2 linked regions of the Homo sapiens genome follow. The protein of the gene in region 1 purifies or fractionates together with the protein of each later gene. This does not show direct contact. Each region holds a gene or a part of one and is shown on either strand. Other genes may lie near its edges.

Evidence for each region. Proteins that work in one complex are often made in the same cells at the same time.
Region 2: the proteins of RALGPS2 (region 1) and SIPA1L1 purify together in Homo sapiens (affinity purification with mass spectrometry, with the first as the bait; one large-scale study listed by BioGRID). This does not show direct contact.

The regions. Positions count from the first base shown.
Region 1 is NC_000001.11:178,919,750-178,922,455, forward strand, and holds the end of RALGPS2 (ras-specific guanine nucleotide-releasing factor RalGPS2), read left to right. Parts: 3' UTR 1-2,091; downstream 2,092-2,706. UniProt on the Homo sapiens protein: Guanine nucleotide exchange factor for the small GTPase RALA. May be involved in cytoskeletal organization. May also be involved in the stimulation of transcription in a Ras-independent fashion.
Region 2 is NC_000014.9:71,669,819-71,673,475, reverse strand, and holds part of SIPA1L1 (signal-induced proliferation-associated 1-like protein 1), read right to left. Parts: intron 2,358-3,657; coding exon 1,784-2,357; intron 1,129-1,783; coding exon 854-1,128; intron 1-853.

The DNA of each region.
Region 1 (2,706 bases):
ATTTCCTTCCTGTTTTTTTGAGGCACATTCCTTTACAACCAGTGTTTAAACCACCACGTAATCATCTTCTGCAAACAAGGGGTGCCAGTGTTGCCTAACAGAAGATAATCTTTAATAAAGCAAATCCTCTGCTTCAAAGGTTTTTGAAATAATTGGATCCCTTTTTGAAAAGGAAGATGAGTTTAACTGTGTCCAGGTGGAGTAATAGTACTGCTGTTGCATGAATAGATGATACAAAGCAAGTGATGAGGTTGGTATGACTTCTTTAGTGACCTTTTAGGGTTTGCTTTTATTTTCCTCTCTTTTTTGTATTATTTCTTTCAAACATAGTAAATATATGATTTTACAGCCAAAGTGGTATTCTGTTTTTTCTAAGCTTTGAGATACAAATATTGCTATTTAATCACATTGATGATGAATTACTTTCCATGTGAACCTTCTCAAAATGATTTAAGTACCTTTGATTTTGCTCCCCTAAAAATGGCTTGTGTCTAAAGTGACATTTTTTTCCCTATTTGGAGGGTTCTAATGAAAGAGATCCAGGCATAAAAACTCTTTTGCTTATTGAAAGCAATTTGATTACACCTATGTTTCAGGTTATAGTGGGGAGAAAATTTGGTCAGTGCCTTATTATTTGAAGAGCAATTTTAGGGCATCAAGTATGACAATAATCATGTGCCCTCTTGCTCCTCTTATTTCAGGAGTGTGTGCTATCCCTCTCTCCACCAGCTTAATCTTTCTCACCCCAAGTCTAACAAAGTCTTTACAGAAACCTCTGTAGGTGATTGTTGCAGTCTTCCTTGGTTTTTGAGTCTTTTTAAACAAGCTCCTACCCTGCTTCTATCCTTTTAGAGTAGGAGATTAAAAATAAACCCACCCCAGTCAACCTTTAGATAAGCACTCTTAAAAACAAATTTGAAGAGCACTCTTCAGCCAAGTTCATTTTTATTTTGTTGTTGATGTTTTGAGCATACATTTAATTGTAAGGCCTTTTGGAAAAGCCCTAAAAGAATAAGATACAACCAGAAATATTTGAGTTTTGTTAAATGTACTGAAATCTTGTAATGAAAATCCCTTTGGCCAGAAATGAGATTTATTTCCATTTATTTTTACATTTAAGTAACACTCAAAACAAACAAGTAGTCACTTAACCTGCCAGTTATTATTTTCTTGAAAATATACAAGAAAGTAAAAATATCTCTAATATATAAGTTAAAGGAAAGTTAAGAGACTAAGCTAGTTTTTTCAGTGAAAGCAAAGTTGGAAATATTTTGCTTCTCTCAGATTATTGGAAGACCTAGAGCTACTGGATGTTAACCTGAATCAAGATGTTCTTTTCACATTTTTTTAAAGGGCTAGTATGTTCCAGAGTAGGCAAGTAGTCATTCAAGCCAAATGAAAGAGTTAACTGGTCCTTGAGGAGTGTTAGCAAAATTTAAATTTTGACCCTGGCCATTTGTACTACAGAAGTGATTATGGGATTAAAAGAATACATAATTACAGTGTTTTGGGATTGGGCTCTTTTTTTTCTTAATAGAAAAGCAGAAACTTCATAAATAATAGCTGTGCTTTAGATACCAGATAACAAATATTGTTTCCCCTGAAGATATGACCTACTAGAACTACTCACATATATAGTCCAATAATTACTGACTTAATAGGTATGGTAAAATAGCTGATAATAAGTCAGACTCTCAAGAGTTTCTGTACCTTGATTATTGACAAATTCATTGTTTTACATCCTACTAAAGAACATGTGTGTGGGGAGGGGGTGGGGAACTGGTTCACAACATAATCTGAAGGAGATCAAACATCTGTAAGGACAGGTACCCAGTGATGATAATATATCTGAAAACACAAGCCATTTTTATTCTTTATCCCAATTAACTTGAGGTACTCTAATGATGAAGCACTCGATTGCACTATGACCTCCTTGAGTGATGTGCAGCTTGGTTCCTCTCTCACTTTTTGTTTCTTTTTAATATGCAAATGTGAGTGTGCGATCTTCAGTGTGTCTGCATAAGCTAACTTAAGATGAATTTAAGTACAGTTTTCTGAAATATTTCTATTGAAATAAATTACTTAAAATTATAGATTGGGTGAGGATGTTTTTGTTACTGTATTTGCATTTTTATCATGAACTTTTAAGGTGCAAATAAACTTTAAGTTGATTTTTTTCCCCTTTCTAAGGTAGTCAACAAGGCTATTGTTGGTGCAGGGAAAGCTCTGAAAAAACTTTAGTCACTCTTCTCTAGCCCAAGACAAGAATGTGCCACCTCGCATGTGGACAAATGGGGTTGTGGGGAATAGAGAGTAAGGGCATAACATTTCCAACTACATCTCCCACTCTGAGTATGTGATACGATAGGAGTAGTCCCCAAAGAGGCTCTCTTTGCTAATACATAACATTTTTTTCTTTTTACCATTTCTGAAAACAATCCATATTCGAGACCATGGAGCTTTAAATTGGAAGAAGTACAGAAATACCTGTGTGGAGTCTCCTGTAGGCTATTGTCTGGGTGTTGGTTATGCTTGAGAATTCCACGTTAGCTTAGCCTCTGCATGGTTTAGGAACCCCCAGCCAGGAAAAGCCCAATATTTTGGCAAATTATAATTCAGTTTTCAGCAGTTTTCTCACCTCCATAGTGCCCTTTGAAACTTCTCACTGTCCCTTTACTTGAACCAAAAGAGAAGAATGACACTTAT
Region 2 (3,657 bases), on another chromosome or scaffold:
CTTAGTGGCAAAATAGGACACAGAACACTGTCTTGGCTTTAGAAAGCCTAAGAATCAATTGCCAAAGCTTAAGAGAAATTCTTAGAAAATAATGGCATAAACTAAAAAGAGAGATCTTAAAAACTAGCAAAAATAGCATGTGCATGTCCAAAGGAGAAAATAAACAGTTGATTAAATTTCTTCCACCAATAAACCTCCCCAGAGACAGAGAAATTAAATTTTCAACAGTGCTGCTGGCTTGGCAGGAGCTGTGGGGGGTTGGGTGGGGCAGGGAGCTCTTAGGTTTTCCCTTCTGGAAAAGACTAGGAACCAAAATGCCAAAGCACCATGAGCAGGGGCAGCTCACCTGAAGCCAAACCCTAGCACATGCAGATACAGTTAGGAAAGCAGCTGCCAGACTGAGACAGCAAAGGTCCAAACAATTGCTGAGTTTTGGGCAGCAATTAGGAGAGAGAAGAGAATAAGAGCATCATGGAACATAGAAGAAAAGCAATCTGACAATTTGAGATGTTGAGTGTCTTTTAATGTTCAATGTGTTCAATGTTTCTCAGCTCCCAGTGGAAAATTCTTAAGATAGATATTACCAGACTTCTCTATCTGTCATGGCAACTTTATAAATCCAGTGATGTAAATCCTGGGAATGGTCCCATTTAGTCACTCTTTCCAGCTGCTGTCACCACACACTGAAAGGGAGCTTCGTCCTGAGTCAGACTCCATGGATGAAACATTCAGCATCACATGTAACCTATTGTTCTTCACAACACCCTACTCCACTACCTGCTAAGAGATGTTCTACATGGTACACAAACCCTGCACTCGAGTCTCAGGCCCACAGCTGTCTCCTCAGACCTACCTCCGCGGGGTGCAGTCATCATGCGGGGGAATGATGACAACCTTCACCGTGACAGATGTTCTCAGGAGGTCGATCATCTGCTCATGGCTCAGAGTGGCTACCGCCACCTTGCAGATCTCCACCAGGCGACTGCCCTGCCTCAGCCCTGCCTGCCAGGCATAACCGTAGGGCTCCACATCCGCCACAATGCCCTCATAGTTGACATGGAAGCCAAGCTGTCCTAGCCCATTTCTTCGCAGAGTCATCTCCACCGATTCACAGCCTTTTGAAACAAACTAGACAAGGAAATAAAAGATACTGTGGTTTAAAGCAATAGGGTATTAAGTGGTGGACATGGAACTGGAAAATCATTGCAAGCAGGGTTAGTTCTGAATACCTTATTGCCAGCTGAAGAGCAGTCTGGTTATTTCCTCTTCACTAATCTCCTATTCATTAGGCCAAAAGGAATATACTTGTTGCATCCAAAAAGCTCAACGGCTTCCCTGAAGTTACAAGGAAACCTCTACCAGAGACCTACAGGGAGCTGGCAGTAAATAGAAACCATATACTGCTACTCATTTAGCCTTTGTAAAATTCAAGGCAGCAGATACTCAAGCAATTCTTTTCAACACCACCACCAGATGACTGGACTGCAGCACCAGGGAACAGGTCACATGCAAATGGGTTTTGAACATGAACGCACACACACACACACACACACACACACACACACACACACACAGAGTAAATGTGTCTTCCCCAATTTGTTCTACTTTTCCGAAACATCCATGGAAAACACAAGCATGAGATAAACTCTGTTTGCTTCACACATCAAGGGAGTTTTCAGAGGAGCTAATAACAGAGCACAAGGTTCAGTAACTTGGCTCTAGTCTGTATTGAAAACTTTATGAAAGAGAAACTGCATGTAAGGAAGAGGAAGGAGAGACTCACCTGCAACCTTTTGACAATCTCTTTGATCTCCTCAATGTTAATAAAACTACCCACTGAAACACATTCTCCTCGTTCATAGAAGATTTTGAGGCTGGTGTCAGTTGAAGTCCACCCTATCACATCTCTACAGGAACAATTGAAGACCACGCTCTTTGTTTCCTGTTCAATGAGCACAATGAACTCATTGGAGATCCCTAAAAGGCAGTCTAGTTCCATGGCCTTGTTGTAGTCTTCAGCCCGGACTGCCCATACAATGGCCCCCATGCTGCTGAGCTCGGCTCCTGGATATGGCTTAGACTTTTCCTTCTTCTTGGAAGCCAGAGAGATGAACGGAAACTTGCCAGAAGGGTCGATAGGGGTGTTGGTGACATTCTTTTCTGCCAGATCTTTCAGGTATTCCTGGCGGGTCCGAGTTGCCATGGCCCGAAACTTCTCCGATTTATGAGCAGCATTTTCTGCATTAATCACTTTCGCCAAAAGGAAGTCCCTGAACACATTTGACTTAGGGAAAGTGACCCCTTTAGGAATGGGAGGCCCAAAGGAAGGCACATCTCTGGACCTGGTAACAGCCACACTGAGAGACAAAGATCAAAGAGAGCCACGTCAGTATTTCTCAGTCTCACAACATCAGAATAAAATATACTTTCTCAAAGACAAAGATGTACCTCAGATACAAAATAGCTGCTTATTTTTCCATGAGAAACAACACACATTTCTGCTTAATACGAGTATATTTTTTCATTCTACCGCATTTAGGATTTACACAACATAATTTTTTTTCTAGGCCAAAAACAAACCTCCCAAAATCCCAAAAGCTAACACTATTAACTTTTTTTTTACCAGACAGGAAACTGACCAAAACTCCATGAAAAAAAATAGGTTTACTGTAATATTCTGTGTAAGACATTTTAAATACCTACTAACTGTTTTCAAGGGAGGTTACTGTAACCACATCATCTTTCAGAACAAGCATACATTCTGTGAGAACACAAATGTGTTCTCCATTTTAGATATGATGGCTATAAGCAGACAGCTTACATTGAAAATATCAGAAGATGCATGCCATAAAAGAAATGAATTAAATTTCAATAAAACTTAACTAGTATTTGTTGGCCTAAGTGTGAGGCATTATGCAACCAGATTAAAAGCATAATTTTAAAATGAAAATTGGAATCTGAGTAATAGTATGAGAATCTTTATGTAATAGCAACAACGCTTTAAAATCATATTTTTAAACTGAGCTATTCCTTGGTCCTTTTGGTATTTTATTCTGATAATCTATTTCTAAGAAAAATATTTTCCTTCTCCCATTCCTTTAAGCAAGATTGATATAAGAAAGCCTGTTCCAGTCATTTCTTCTGACTATATATTCCTAAAATTGGGCCTAAGAAAAGGATCATATGAACATTTGTAATAACTTATTATTTTTAACCTCAAAAGGAAAAAAAGTAAGTTTCTCCTAAAACAACAAAGGAAGTTGTTGATATAGAAATAGAGAGGTTGAGTGTTTTATATCATTTCCCAAGATTTTAGTAAAGTTTGACATGACTGGAAATGATTCTAACACATCGAAGATCGCTCTTTCCAAATTAAAAGTGAACAAATTATGCAATTATACTTAGTATTAGGGAAACAATAAAAAAATCGGTTTCTTCTGAACTCTTGGAATAGAAATGGCATCATCAGAGAGTATGCATCTTTCAAATAAAATTGAAGAGCTCTGTTTCACTTTTTTTTCTTTAGGAAGGGTTTGCTTTAAGATATTCAGCTTTGTTTTTCAAGAAATAGTTATTTCTTGTGAAAATAAGAAAAATAAAAATCAGCAACCTCAGGAGGCAAATTATATTTCTGGTGGAATGGAAAAGCTACATGCT